2 separate regions of the Homo sapiens genome follow, and region 2 is linked to region 1. The links come from fine-mapping of genetic effects on gene expression. Tissue or cell type: whole blood. Region 1 holds a variant in brackets; the other region holds the start of a gene. All regions are shown on one strand. Distances are from middle to middle.

What was found. PIP is the estimated chance that this variant, and not a neighbour inherited with it, causes the effect.
Region 2: it holds the start of TAFA2, and the variant in region 1 is fine-mapped to the expression of TAFA2 in whole blood (INTERVAL, PIP above 0.99).

The regions. Positions count from the first base shown.
Region 1 is chr12:62,425,739-62,434,007 of GRCh38, reverse strand. No RefSeq gene overlaps it. Among named protein-coding and RNA genes, the nearest start is that of MON2, 37 kb to the left of the region's middle. The variant A/G (reference allele first, on the strand shown) is at 4,463.
Region 2 is chr12:62,189,211-62,197,210 of GRCh38, reverse strand. TAFA2 (TAFA chemokine like family member 2) reads left to right here and starts at 4,438. Exons shown (of 5, transcript NM_178539.5): 1 at 4,438-5,952. RefSeq lists a silencer at 2,849-3,143 and an enhancer at 4,513-5,046.

The DNA.
Region 1 (8,269 bases):
GAGAGAGAGACATGGCATAGAAAGCACAAATATTCTTTATGTTTAAACTTGAGAGTTACATATCTTGAGATGAAGGATTATAATAACCACTAACTGACCAAACAGAAGATGCTTCTGCACTAGTGTGATGCCTTCAAATACTATTTACAAGTGCTTTGAGAAGTTTTCTTTGTTTTGTTTTGTTTTGTTTTGTTTAGACAGGGTCTCACTCTGCCGCCCAGGCTGGAATGCAGTGGCGTGATCTTGGCTCACTGCAACCTCCACCTCCCGGGTTCAAGCAATTCTCATACCTTAGCCCCCTGAGTAGCTGGGATTACAGGGGCGCACCACCACGCCTGGCTAATTTTTGTATTTTTTTTGGTAGAGACGGGGTTTCACCATGTTGGCCAGGCTGGTGTTGAACTCCTGACCTCAGATGATCCACCTGCCTCCACTTCCAAAGGTGCTGGGATTACAGGTGTGAGCCACCATGCCCAGCCTTTCCTTTTAAAAAAGAAAATAAAATGTAAATAAATCTATGGGCATGTCATCTTTAACAAGAGGAAATATTGGTTGAATATAGTGATGTTATTTATTCATATATAAAATACCTTCAGACCCACGTATTTAGTGATGCTCTGTGTATAATTTTGTACCTTTTTGAATATATATACTATTAGGATGCCTGAATCAGCTCTAGGAGGTATTTCTTCCTCAGTTAATGGCATCACTAATTGAACTGATCACCCAGTATATACCCTCAGTCTCAAAATGTCCTCTTCACATGCCCCGGAGTCTTGTGGAAAAGAGACATAGAAATTACTTTCATTGATGGAGATTTGGACACAAATCCACAGAGTTGGCCTCATGAGGTGCCTGAAGACTTCTTTCTTTAATCCCCTCATCCAAGTACTCAGTGTTAGGAGTTAGGATTAGGTTTGTCTGTATATTACAGAATACTCAAATAACACTGAATTAAATCAGGATTTTTTTTTTCTCTTACATAAAGAAGTCTAGATTTCTATTTCAATCCAAGATGGAGTAACAGGGACTGGATTTACACTCTTGCCAAAAACAACCAAAAATAAACCAGATAAAATATATGAAATAGCATTTCTCATAATATTGGGCATCAGTCAACAAAAGACAGTCATCACTGAGAGATGGGAAGTAAGTAGTAGGGCTCTATGATTTCCTCAGCTTACTGCCTTGAGAGTTTGCAGGCTATAGTGCAGAGAAAGAGAAATGGGATGGAGTGTAGTGAACATCCTGGGTTGAGAGATGTAGTTGATAGTCCAAGGAAACCAAGGTACCTCAAGCTTGCAGGGCAGAGTGCTTGGAGTGGAGATTTTCTTCACAAAGAGCAGATCTGCTGAGGATACACCCTTCAGGGTACTGGTCAGGGCATAAGTGTGAGAAAAGAAGTTGAGTCTGGAAGAAAAAATCATCCCGAAAGAGTAAAGGAAACCGTGACTGGCATTCACTTGGGGCTGGGAACTCAAAGCATGTGACATTGGGTAGAATGTCTTTTTTGGAGAAATGTCTTTTCAAGCCCTTTGCCCATTTTAAAATTGTGTTATTTTGTTTTGTTTCATTTTTTGCTATTGAGTTGTAGGAGTTTATTATATTTTAGAAATTAACCCCTTATCAGATATATGGCTTGGTTCCTGTTTGCACCAGCCATAGTGAAAAACTTAAAGCATGTGACGTTGGGTAAAATAGTCAGCAGAGCCTTGCTTCAGTAGTGGGGAAAAATTAGCTCTAACTGAGCATTCCTATGAACCTGTCAAACAAATCATAAAAACAAGATCTGAAACAGCTTCTAGGTAATTTAACTGCATACCAGAATAAAGCTCAATAGTATTTATTGGAATACAGGCAAATATCCAATACCCAATAAGCTAAAATTCACAGTGTCTGGTTTCCAATAAAAATTACCAGGCATGCAAAGTGGCAGGAAAACATGATCCATAACTGGGAGAATAATTAAACCATTAAAATGAATTCAGAACTGATACAGACATTACAATTAGCAGACAAGGATATTAAAATAATAAAATTATATCCCATATACCCAAGTCAGGAACATGGAAAATATAAAAGACACTCAAATGAACTTGGAGGTAAGAAAAATGCAAAGTATAAGATAAAAATACAATATATGGGAAAATCAGATTAGACAGAATAAAAGATTAGTGAACAAAAATAAGTGAATTTGTTTTGCAGTATATTGCAATAAAAATTAACCAAATTGAAACATTAAAAATGAATTTCAAAAGATGAAAGCATCTTCAGTGAACTGTGGGACAACTTCTAGGGACTAATAAATGTATAATCAGATTCTTCAAAGAATAAGAGAGGAATACAACAAATATTTAAAGAAATAATGGCTGAAAATTTTCTAAATTTGATGAAACAACTAAACCCACAGATCAAGAATGACAAACTCCAAGCACATGAAACATGAAGAAAATGACACTAAGGTACATAATGCTCAAATTGCTCAAAGCCGGGATAAATGCAATTTTAGTTTCCTTTACAATCTTTAGGACTTTTCTTTTTCTTACCTATTTAAGACCTGTAGTACAATGTTGAATAAAAGTTGTGAAAGCATATATTTTTGCATGTTGCCTCATTTAGAGGGAAAGCATTCAGTATTTCACCATGAAGTATGATGTTAGCTATAGGTTTTCCATAGATTCCCTTTATCTGATTGGGGAAGAGCCTTCTTAATCTCAGTTCACTGAGTTTTATTCATAAAAGATATTGTTGTTGAGCATCTTTTCACATACCCCTTGGCCATGTGTATGTCTTCTTTAAAGAAATGTCTTTTCAAGTCCTTTGCCCATTTTTAAATTGTGTTATTTTGTTTTGTTTTGCTATTGAGTTGTAGGAGTTCATTATATTTTAGAAATTAACCCCTTAACAGATACGTGGCTTACATGTATTTTCTCCCATTCCATAGGTTGCTTTTTCATTCTGTTGATTATTTCCTTTACTGTGCAGAAGCTTTTTAGTTTGATGAGCCCTGCTTGTCTATTTTTGCTTTTGCTGCCTGTGCTTTTCGTGTCATATGGAAACAATCATCGCCAAGACCAATGTCATGAGGATTTCCCCCATTTTTATTCTGGGAAGTTTACAGTGTCAGGTCATATGTTTAAGTCTTTCACCCATTTTGAACTGCTTTGTTGTGTACAGTGTATGATAAAGGTATAATTTCATTCTTTTGCATGTAGATATCCAATTTTTCAGCATTATTTGTTGAAGAGACTCTCTTTTCACCCATTGTATGTTCTTGGCACCCTTGTCAAGGACATGTTGGTGGTATATGTATGGATTTATTTCTGGGCTTTCTATCCTATTTCATTAATCTATATGTCTATTTTTATGCCAGCACCATAGTGTTTTAGTTACTGTAGCTTTGTAATCTATTTTGAAATCACGAAGTGTGATGCTTCCAACTTTGTTCTTCTTTTCCAAGATTGCTTTGGCTATTCTGAGTTTTTTATAGTTCTATATGAATTTTGGAACTGTTATTGCTATTTCTGTAAAAAAAAATGCCTTTCGGATTTTGATGAGCATAGCTTTGAATATGTAGATGACTTTGGATAGTATTGGCATTTAAACAATGTGAAGTCTTCAAATTCATGAATATAGTGTATCTTTCCATTTATTTGTGTCTCCTTTAGTTTATTTCATCAATGTTTTATAGTTTTCAGTGTAGAAGTCTTTCACCTCTGTGATGCTTAATTTTAGGTGTCAACTTGACTGGATTAAGGGATGTCCGGACACCTGGTAAAGCATTATTTATGGGTATGTCTATTAAGGGGTTTACAGAAAAGACTGACATTTGAATGAATGCATTGATTAAGGAAAATCCACTCTCACCCAATGTCAGTGGGCACCACTCAATCAGCTGAGGGCCTGGATAGAACAAAAAAGGCAGAGGAAAGGTAAACTAACTCTCTGTCTGTCTGTCTCTCTCTCTCTCTCTTTCTCTCTCTCTCTCTCTCAGAGCTGGGGCACCCTTCTTCTCCTGCCCTTGGACATCAGATCTTCAGATTATCTGGCCTTGGGACTCTGGGGCTTATGCCAGCCACCCCACTCCCACTTCAGGTTTTCAGTCCTTCAGCCTTGAACTGAGAGTTACACCATCATCTTCCCTAGTTCTGAAGACTTTACACTTGGACTGAGACATATTTACACTTCCCTGGTTCTCCAGCTTACAGACAACCTATCATGAGACTTCTTAGCCTTCATTATTATGTGAGCCAATTCCCCTAATAAATCTCCTTCTATCTATCTATCATCTATCTATCTATCTGTCATCTATCTATCTATCTATCTATCTATCTATCTATCTATCTATCCTATCTATTGATACATCCTATTCATTCTGTCCCTCCTAGAAAACACTGACTGACTAATACAACCTTCAACCTTCTTGGTTAAGTTTATTCCTAAGTATTTTATTCTTTTTGAT[A/G]CTATTATAAGTGGATTTGTTTGCTTTTCTTTTTGAATGGTTCACTGTTAGTGTATAGAAACACAATTTATTTTTGCATGTTGATTTTATATCTAGCAACTTTACTGAATTTATCTATTTTTTTTTAAATTTTTTTTCTTGAGATGGCATCTCACTCTGTCGCCCAGGCTGGAGTGCAATGGCGTGATCTCAGCTCACTGCAACCTCCACCTCCCGGGTTCAAGCGATTCTCCTGCCTCAGCCTCCTGAGTAGCTGGGACTACAGGCACCTGCCACCACACCCAGCTAATTTTTATACTTTTAATAGAGACAGGGTTTCACCATGTCGGCCAGGATGGTCTCAATCTCTTGACCTTGTGATCTGCCCGCCTCGGCCTCCCAAAGTGCTGGGATTACAGGCGTGAGCCACCGCGCCCGGCTGAATTTATCTATTCTAACAGGTTTTTTGTGGAGTCTTTATCAAAACTACAGTGAGATATCACCTCACACCTACCAAGATGTCTATTTAAAATATATATATATAACAAATACTGGTAAGGATGTGGAGAAATTAGAACCCTTGTACACTGTTGGTAGGAATGTAAAATGTTGCATCCGTCATGGAAAATCATATAGAAGTACCTCAAAAAATCGAAAATAGAAGTACCATAAAATTTCACTTTTGAAATTTTACTTTTGAGTGAAATCACTCAAAAGTAATTTCACTTTTGAGTATATGCCCAAAAAATTAAAATCAGGATTTTGAAGAGACATCTGCATTCCTATGTTCACTGCAGCATTATCCACAACAGTCAAGATATGTAAACAACCCAAGTTTACATCAACAGATGAATGGATAAAGAAATTGTGGATAAAGAAAATATATATGCAATAAAATGTTGCGTATAAATAAAATGTTCATCCTTATAGAATAAGGAAATCCTACTATTTGCGACCACATGGATAAGTCTTGAGGACATTAGGCTAAGAGAATAAGTCAACATACAAGGACAAATACTGCATGATTCCACTTATATGAGGTGTTTATAATATTCCAACTGATGGAAATTACAACTACAATTATGGTTGCCAGGGGATGAAGGGTAGGGGAAATAGGCGTTGTTCAATGGATATAAAGTTTTAGTTATGCTAGATACATAAGTTCTACATATCTGCTGTACAACATTATACCTATAATTAACAATATAGTATTGTACACTTCAAAATTTGTTAATAGGGTAAAGTTAGGTAAGTGTTCTAACTGCCTACTGCGCCCCCCTACCTCGCCAGAAAAAAACCCACAAAGAAAATCAAGGGAACTTCAGGATGCGATAAATCTATCTATTACTTTGATTGTAGTGGTGGTATCACATATGTGTGCATATGTCCAAACTCATCAAATTGTATGCATTAAATGTATGTGATTTTTATATATCAATTGTACCTCAACACAGTTGTTGAACAAAAGGTGTTGAATCTGCTGAATGCTTTTTTTCTGCAACTGAGATGATCTTACGATTTTTTCACGGGTGATTAGTTTTTAAAAATCAATTTGTAAACTTTATTGTTACTCCTAATGATACAAAAACACATACTATGATTTGTCTCTAAGTTTGTATAAGTGAATTAGGTTTTTTATTTGTGGCAAAAAAACATAATAAAATTTACCATCTTAACCATTTTTAAGTAACTATAGTCACATTGACATGTAACACATCCCTAGAACTTTTTCATCGTGCACTACTAAAAGTCAATATCCATTGAACAACAACTTGTAGATTGATTGCACTACAAACACAAAAATTTGCCTGGCATGGTGGTGTGCACCTGTAGTCACAGCTACTTGGGAGGCTGAGGCATGAGAATTGCCTGAACCTGGGAAGTAGAGGTTGCAGTGAGCCAAGATGGCACCATTGGACTCCAGCCGAGATGGCACCATTGCACTCCAGCTGAGATGGCGACAGAGTGAGACCCTGTTTCAAAGAAAAAGAATAAATAAAGTGGTGTACTTATAAAGTGGGGAAAATGGAGACAGACCCAGAGAAAGGGAGAGTGTCATGTGAACATAGACAGAAATTGGGATGATGCAAACAAGCCAAGGAACATCAAGGAAGAAAAGGTAGGCAAGACATGGAGAACAGGCTCTCGTTCACAAACCTCAGGTGGAACCAAACCTGCCAACACCTGGTTTCAGACTTCTCTACAGAATTACGAAAAATAAATTTTTGTTGTTTAAGCTATTTTTCTCTCTTAAGTTTGTGGTACTTTTATTTGGCAGCATATTTGGCAGAATATGATGTCACCCAGTCTAACAATCTCTATCTTTTAATTAGTGTGTTTAGATCATTTTCATTTAATGTAATTAGTGATATTATTGGGTTTAAGTCTCCCAATTCATGATTTGTTTACTTGTCTTATCTGCTTTTTGATTCTTTCACCTTTTTTGCATCCTTTAGTATGATTTGAATACTTTATTATTCCTTTTTAGTTTATTAGCTTTTTGGCAATGTCTTTTAGATTTTTTTGTCTTAATGGCTTCTCTGTAGTTTAAATTATACATACCTTACTTAACCTTTCCCATTTTATTCAGGTTAATATTTTACTACTTAAGTAAAAGGTAGAAACCTTACAACCACACAGGTTGTTGTACCCTCCTCTCTTTATCTTACAGTTGTCATATGTATTACACTTACAGACATTAATATTCCTACCAGGCAATGGTATAATTTTGAGAGGAGATTTATTTTACCCTATTTTAAGCTTATTAAGTTAGCATGCTATAATTTCATGAATGCTGAAGACACTAGAATCCTGTGTCAGAGACAAACGATGTTTTTATTCACACACACCAGTGGCAGAAACCAGAGAATCAGCATTTTGTGCTGGTTCCCTGAGCCCCACACCCATGAGGTAATGTAAAAGGCCTAAAGAAGCCAACATGCACAGTGGGTTTATGGGGCCAGAGGAAAGGAACATCAAAATTAATGAGTCCCATCTGTACTAAAAATACAAAATTAGCTGGGCATGGTGGCACATGCCTATAATCCCAGCTACTTGGGAGGCTGAGGCAGGAGAATTGCTTGAACCCAGGAGGCGGAGGTTGCAGTGAGCCAAGATTTTGCCATTGCACTCCAGCCTGGGCAACAAGAGTGAAACTCCATCTCAAAAAAAAAAAAAAAAAAAAAAAATTAAGGAGTCTTTCACTTTTATGGCAAGCCACAAAGAGGCCAGCTTTTTGTCTGAGAGCACATATTACATCACCTTTGATAATTACCAGCTGCATAAACAACTCTGAGAAATGACCTGGCTGAAAGAGTTGTTAGGGCCTTGCAATCTTTACACACTCCGCAAGACATGTAGGAGTACAAGAGGTCCGTAGCAGACTGCCTCCCAATCATATTTTGCTTTCCTCAGTAACACACATTTTTCAAAACTTAAGGGGAGAAAAATAGATTATTATATTTACTCAGACTGTGATAATTTTCATTGCTCTTCTTTCATTTTTCAAGTTTTAAGTTTCTGGTGTCATTTTCCTTTAGCCTGAGTAATTTCCTTTAAGTATTTTTTAGAGCTGATTTGCTGGTGATGAAGTCTCACAATTTTCCTTCATCTGAGAATGTCTTTATTTCCTTTTTATTCTGAGGGATATTTTTGCTGGACAAAGAATTCTGAGTTGACAGTCTTTTCCTCTCTTGACAGTTTAAAGGTGTTCCATTCTCTTTTGGACTCCATCGCTTCTGATGAGAAATTCAAAGTCATATAAATAATGTGTTAGGTCTTTTGATATTGTCCCATGGGTTCTTATTGCTCTTTTTTTTTTTTTTTTTT
Region 2 (8,000 bases), 240 kb after region 1:
GTTTCATGGAGGACAATTTTTTTCAATGGACAGTTGGTGGGGGATAATTTCGGGATGAAACCATCCCACCTCAGATCATCAGGCATTAGATTCTCATAAGGAGCGCACAACCTGGATCCCTTGCATGTGCAGTTTACAATAGGGTTCAGGCTCCTGTGAGAATCTAATGCCGCAGCTGATCTGACAGGAGATGGAGCTCAGGCGGTAATGCTCATTTGCCCACAGCTCACCCCTGCTGTGAGGCTGGGTTACTAACAGGGAGGGTACCAGTCCCTGGGGGTTGGAGACCCCTTCTTTGCTGCACTTTGCAAATATTGTTTTTATTTATTATTATTATTTTCTTTTATTTTTACAAATTTAAGGTTTGTGGTAACCCTGTGTTGAATAAGTCCCTCAGTGCCATTTTTTCAGCAGCATGTGCTCACTTCATGTCTCTGTGTTAGATTTTGGTAATTCTCACAATATTTCAGACTTTTTGTATTATTCTTGTATCTGTTATGGCGGTCTGTGATCACTGGTCTTTGATGTTACTATTATAATTGTCTTAGGATGCAATGAACTGTGCCTATGTAAGATGGCAAACTTAATTAATAAATGTTGTGTGGTTCTGACTGTTTCACCAACTGGCTGTTCCCCCAACTCCCTCTCTCTCCTGGGGTCTCCCTATTCCCTGACCTAATATTGAAATTAGGCCCATTAATATAACCCTACAGTGGTCTGTAAGTGTTCAAATGAAAGGAAGAGTCTCATGTCTCTCACTTTAAATCAAAAGCTTAATAGGGAGGAAGGCATGTCAAAAGCTGAGAACTAGGCCTCTTGAGCCAAACTGCTAGGCAAGTTGTGAATGCAAAGGAAAAGTTCAAGAAGGAAATGAAAAGTGCTGCTCCAGTGAACACACAATGATAAGGAAGCAAAACAGTCTTATTGCTGACATAGAGAAAGCTTTGGTGGTCTAGATAGAAAATCAAACCAGCCACAACATTCCTTTTAGCCAGGGTCTAATCCAGAGCAAAGCCTTAACTCTCTTCAATTCTATAAAGGCTGAAAGAAAGGTAAAAAATCTTCAGAAGAAAAATTTGAAACTAGCAGAGGTTGGTTCATGAGATTTAAAGAAAGAAGCTGTCTCCATAATACATGAGTAAAAGGTGAGGCAGTAAGTGCTTAGGTAGAAGCTGCAGCAAGTTATCCAGAAGATCTAGCTAAGATCATTGATGAAGGTGGATACACTAAACAACAGATTTTCAATGTAAATAAACATCCTTATATTGGAAGAGGATGACATCTGGGACTTTCCCAGCTAGAGAGAAGTCAGTGCCTGGCTTCGAAGCTTCAAAGGACAGGATGACTCTCTTGTTAGAGGATAATGCAGCTGGTGACTTTAAGTTGGAGCCAATGCTCATTTGCTATTCTGAAAATCGTATGGCCCTTAAGAATTATAATAAATCTACTCTGCTTGTGTTTTATAAATGGAAAAAGAAAGCCTGATAGCAGCACATTTGTTTACAGCATATTTTATTAAATATTTTAAGCCTACTGTTGAGAGCTACTGGCTTCACAAAAAGATTCCTTTCAAAATACTACTGCTTATTGACAATACATTTGGTCATCCAACAGCTCTGATGAAGATGTACAAGAAGGTTCATGTTGTTTTCATGCCTGCTAACACAACATCTGTTCTGCAGCCCATAGGTCAAGGAGTAATTTTGCCTTTCAAGTCTTCTTATTTAAGAAATATATTTTGCTAGGCTACATCTGTCATAGATAATGATTCCTCTGATGGATCTGGGCAAAGTAAATTGAAAAGCTTCTGGAGATCATTCACCATTCTAGATGCTAGAAGAGTTGCTTCTGTGGATGAGCAAAGTAGTTTTTTTTGAGATGGAATTTACTCATGGTGAAGATGCTGTGAATATTGTTGAAATGACAACAAAGGATTTTGAATATTTTATAAACCTGACTGATAAAGCAGTGGCAGAGTTGAGAGGACTAACTCCAATTTTGAAAGAAGTTCTACTGTGGATAAAATGCTATCAAGCAGCATTGCATGTTACAGAGAAATCTTTTGTGAAAGGAAGAGTCAATTGACACAGCAAACCTCATTATTGTCTTATTTTAAGAAATCGCCACAGCAATTCCAACCTTCAGCAACCACTACCCTGATCCATCAGCAGCCATCAACACTGAAACAAGACTCTCCATCAGCAAAGAGATTAGGAATCACTGAAGGCTCAGATCATCAGTACACTTTTTTTAAAAAAAGCATTAAACCATTTTCAAGGTAAGATATGTACATTTTTAAGACAAAATGCTATTGCATACCTAATGGACTGCAGTATGGTGTAAACATAACTTTCACATGTGTTGAGAAACCAAAAAAATTGTGTGACTCACTTTATTGCAATATTTGTGGTGGTTTGGAACCAAACCTGCAACATTTTTGAGGCATGCCTGTAGAAGGTAAGAAGTATCAACAAAAAATTTCTGTTAAATTAGGAGAATCTTTACTACTTTGTTTCCTTTGAAGAGAATGCAAAAGATTTTATTTTGTCTAGGAGATGCTGGAAATAGGAATATCTTGATCTAAAAATTATTGGGAATTATTTACAAAAAGCACAGAGGTTATGATAGAATTTCAGCATCATATGACATTGGATAAGAAATTTTGTTCTATTTTGTAATTAATTTATATATCTGTTCTCTTTACTTTTTCATATATTGTAAAAACACAGTGGGTTTAGTTAGAAAAATAAGGCTGAAAATGTCCCACACTTAAACAATACAAATAAAATTTTAACAAGATGACAAAACTATAGATTACAACCACAAAAAGTTAATGAATTAGAAGGTAGAAAGATTATAATGTATGCTTTATGTTTTTTTGTATGTGTGTGTGTGTGTGTGTGTGTGTGAAAAGAAAGCCAATGTTCTAAAGTGATTTTGTAAGTGACTTCTTTCTAGTACAGAGTCCAAGTTTCCAATGTCATTCCTGCTTGAATTTCATCACACTATTGAACACAGCAGACAAAAAAATACTGTAAGATTTGCAGTGCAACAGTGCCAGGTGTTTTAAAATGTAAACGTTGCTTTCCTGGATATAAGTTACTATGTAAGTGGAATGAAATATTTAATCACATGGCATAAATCTTTTGAAAGAGACTATCTGAGAGATCCTTGGAAACAAATGATTGCTGTATACTACTAGACAAAGTCAAATATGCCATAGAGCAATTAGTTACGGTAAAACTTGCCTTGTTTAGTTTTGGTGCTTTGTTTTAAATGATTTCAACTAGTCTCAGCTATTTAAAAAATACATTCTTTTCTTTCTTTATGACTGTGCTAATTTAGATTATCAAGTTAAAATAGAACTGCTCCAGAAATTCAGAGTGAATGGAAGGGTGTTTAATAATAACTTTAATACACATTTTACAATTTTTGAACATACAGAAACATTTTGAAAGCAAACCCCCAGCTCAAATAGTAAGTTCACAAAAATCTAAATGTTAAGGTTACAGATGGGACCTAGCTTGATTTGGACTGATGTAACAAAACTTTATAAAATCGGTGGAGCTATTTTTTATAAAAATGACCACCTCAACATAATTAAATTACTTGATGCATTTTAGATACAAAATATGGTTGATTTACTAAGCATGTTAAGATAAAATAGCTAAGTGAAGCACATATTCTATATTTCTTTGTAAATATGGTATGTAGTATTACTTTTATTTTATAGCTGGTGAAGAGAGCTTGTGATACCTAATTTGTCAATGGTTTCAGTGAATCACAGCTATATAAAAGCACAGACCTTTAGAGCTGGAAGGAATTTAGCTATCTTGACCATTATTGGTCTAGTTGAAAAAGAGGTATGAAAACTGGCTCCAAAACCAGATTCTTGAGTTATCTTTCCTTGTAAAGGACTTGTAAAATTTCCTGGGTCAGCATTCCCTTTCTTTGTTTCAGATTTTCTTTTTCTGAATTCATTCTTACTAATTATTCATTTTTGAATAGTCTTCTAATCACTAGATTAAGGTTTTGCTCATCTCCAAACATGATCGAAGTGAGCCTCAGAAGACCCTTCATTTGAGCTCATATGCACAGCGCTTAAACCGACACCCAATTTGACCAAACATGTAAGGACATGACCTTCCAGCGTCATGAATATCACGACGTTCCTTTAGCAAGGGCTTTGCTTAATAGGGCTGCAGTGAAAATCCTCCGTCTAAATCCTTGAGAAGTTGTAATTTGTAAAAATGCAAATTATCTGAAACCAGATATTTTTTTCTTTTTCTTTATGGAGAGAAACTGGTCTGTTACATCTAGTAAAGCGTTCTAATCCGGTTGACCCTCTAGAGGGAGACATAGTCCAGCTTTTATACCAGTTGCCTCCTCATCTTTTACTGTCTCGTTCTTTTTCTGCAGGACCGTTGTTTGCTCTCAACGGCAGTTGCTGGGGCTAACAGAACTGGCTGTTGGGAGAGAGAGGCGAGGCAACGCCGCCCGGCCCTGCCATTCCATTTTACTGCTTAACTCAACCTGGAGTGTCAGGACCTATTCTCCTGCATTCTCGCTGCACTATACGGGGGAGCCAAGTCACTCTGTACTCACTGGACAGCCAGGCTGGGTGGAATAGGGTTCTAGAGTGGAGCAGGGGCTCTGCCCTTTATGGCGACTTTCTAAAAGATTAGCATCAGTGTCTTTTGACAGTATAGCATCTGGGGTGGGACGCGGAGAGGAGGCTTTGCTTGCTAAACGGCTTCTTTCTCCGCCGGTGATCTGGATTTGTTTCCTCGGCCCCCTCCCCCCGCTCCTTTCTTTCTCCCCTCCCGCCTTTAGCAAAGTGACACAGGCGACACCTGCTCGCTTGTGTTCGATGTTGGAACTCGCACCTCCTCGGTGGTGACGGTGCCAGGGCACTGCTACCAGGGGGACATCGGCGGGTTTCCCTTCCTTCCAGCCCACGATGCCTAGAAGGGCAGCGGGTGGGCTGCGTGGGGCTCTGCCCGCAGCACTTCGAGGCGGGATTGAGGGGCTGAAGCTGGCCAGGAGTTGCTGCTAAGTGGATTCGAGTGGAAGGCGCCAAGTCTCCGCGAGGGCACCAGCGGGGACCTATCTGCGAGCAGTGGGAACAGGGGCACCTGGACGGAGGAACGCGGGCGTCTGGAGGGGGGACATCGGCTGAGCTCAGAGCCTCTCCTCCTTCCTGTCCCGAGCTTCCCAGCAACTCCGCCACGTTGGAGACCCGGTACCTGCGAGAGCCAGGGAACTCGAGAAGTGCGTGGCCGAGGCTGCTTTCCTGAAGGTGAATCATTCTGTCCAATTGCCTTTCCCCAGAGAACAAGAGGGAGGGCGGGAGAGAGGGAACGGAGGATGTGTGAGTGTGTGTGTGTGTGAGAGGGAGAGACGACGTGAGGCGAGAGGAAAAGTCTTTAGTCGGCCTTAAAAGCAAACAAATCAGAGATGGAATAAGAGCGGTAATTGCAGCAAGACCGCCTTGATTCTTGCAGTCCAGGGAGCTGAGCGCACCGCGCGCATCCGGCGAGGACAGGAGGCGACCGCGGGCGCTGCCAAGGGCTGCGGGACTTTGGCTTTTCCTCAGTAAACAAATCTTTTGATTACTTTGACACTGTGGAATAAAGAAGCGGGGAGAAGGATCAGGCTCACCTTCACCCGCTTCAGGGGGATTCCAGCTTGGATGTCAGATTCCTGAACCGTCTTTGCCATCGGAGGAGGAAACACATCCACACACGCGCGCGCACACTCGCACGCTCAGGGCCACACTCACACGCCGCCCTCCACGATCACACAGCACCAGACTTCGGTTCCCTATGCCCCTGGATGGTGACGGCGGATTGGCATCTTGGAAGCGATGCGAGAGCGATAAGGCTGGCGCCGGCCCGCAAAAGCTGCAGGAGCATCGCTAGGTGTTGCCGCCACCGGGAAGCGGGGCTGCAGGTAGGTGCGAGCCGCGCCTCGGGTCGCCGGCCAGCGCTGGGGACCGGAGCGGCAACTGCAGGACCGCGGTCCCGGAAGCCCCCGTGTGCACACGTCTCCCTTCCCCTTTCTCGGGGGTCCGGGACTGTAGAGGGATCGCCCGGGGAAGGCGAGAGGTGAGGGCAGATGCGGGTCCATCGGCCGGCGTCTCCCTCGCGGGCGGTCAGGGTAGGGGCGGAGTAGAGGGACGCCGAGAGGGGATCGGAGCATGCGAAATGAGGCTCCGTGAGCGGTGCCCTCCCTCTCTGCCCCATTTCTCCTAATAACAGCAAACGACCAGGTCGAGGATTGAAGTGGGTTGTAATTCGATTCCTCACCCAGACCCATCCTGGCTGGTAACCATTTTGGACTCTTAATAAGGAGTTGGGGGTCGCATTCCAGGGAAGATCAATGGGATGTGTCAGGTCATCTTTCTGAAATCCCTACTTTTTGTCCACTTCTGATTAGTTAATTCTCAGGCCTGTTTGCAGAAGGTGGGTGTTTCAGCGAGTCTATTGATTTATCCACCTCTAACTATCTTCATAAAGAATCAAGCTGATAATTTCCGGAGCCTCATCTATGTAAGGTTTATTTAGATTTGGGACGGGGCGCTTTCTTACTGAATGAAATAAAGCTTTTGTAAAGGCTACTACAAGAGAGCTTTAGTAAATGATTCTCTTAACGAACAGCGTTCAGAATAAGAATGGCTTCGGGAAACTAATGGTTTTTTATTTCTTTCCGGTTAGATGTCTCCCGGATCTTGCTACTAGTACCCGGGTTTTCTGCTAACTGCTTTGCCATTCCTTCCCCCTTCAATTCTGAAAGGCCAGGTGCCTACCAAGTATTGTTTTCTTGAGGCTACTGATCTTCACTTATCAATGGGGGAACGTGTTATTTTCAGAAACTGGCTTTGCAAAGGAAAGTTTGAGATCCGTCGCCCTATTTCTCTCAGAACTGCAGGTTGAGTTATCCTGTCTGAAAAGGAAGAACCATAGACGCTCGTAGAGCCTTTGGGTGGACGCGAGGCTTCCCTATTGAGTATTCCACGTCCTGACCGAGTGTTAAACAATTGCCTGAAGCGTTTGGAATCAAATGTGTAGTAATGTTACTCCAGCGGCTAGTCTCTCTTCACCTTTGCTGCGTGAGTTTGATTATGGCAATAAGAGAGAGAGAGGGAAAAAATTATCTTTTTGTGAGTATGAAATCCCCTCTTGGATTTTACAAAATGGTTCGTGGAGAAAAAAAACCTTAAAAACCACAGACACACACACACACACACACACACACACACACACACACAAAGCAAACTCATAAGCAACCTTTACTCTGAAGTGTCCCCAAAGTACTTGGTAGTGTAGCAGGGTCCTTCACACAGGACAGGATGAATTTCAGTTACTATTGACTGAATGATAATTATCTGATTCTTGTCTTCTCAACTAGATTGTTTTAAACATCAACATTCAGAGTTGTCAATTAACACTCCTAAACTGCTTTATTAGGCATATAAGTTAAGACAAATGAACAATTAATTTAAGATTTTTGTGTAAAGTGCTAAACCAAAATAACCAGGAAAGGAGATTAAAAACACTTCTAAAGCTTTAAAAATCAGAAGATTAAGATTATTTGTACTTACCCCAGCCTTTCCATGTTTGCATTTGTACTCTCAGACTGATTAATCATTTGCAATATCAAAATTGGCACCTAACATCCTATATTTCAAATAAAAGATCAGACATGTTTGTCTCTTTCCTTACTTTATTTTGTTTTGAATCTCATCCTGAGTCAATTGTTTGAGTTGACCTTTCTTTTTAGAATCTTAATTTTTAAAGCCACCAGTAGCCACTTAAAGGCCATCAGTTACCACACTGGAGCTTATAAATATTTTCATTTTCCTAATTTTCAATAAAAAAGTTGGATTGTATTATTTATAGATACTAAAAGTCCGTGAGGTTGATGTCACTGCCAACTGAATACTTAGGCACAGGGAATCTTTTAAGAGGCAAATGGCTTTAGTGTGTTGTTTTATTCAG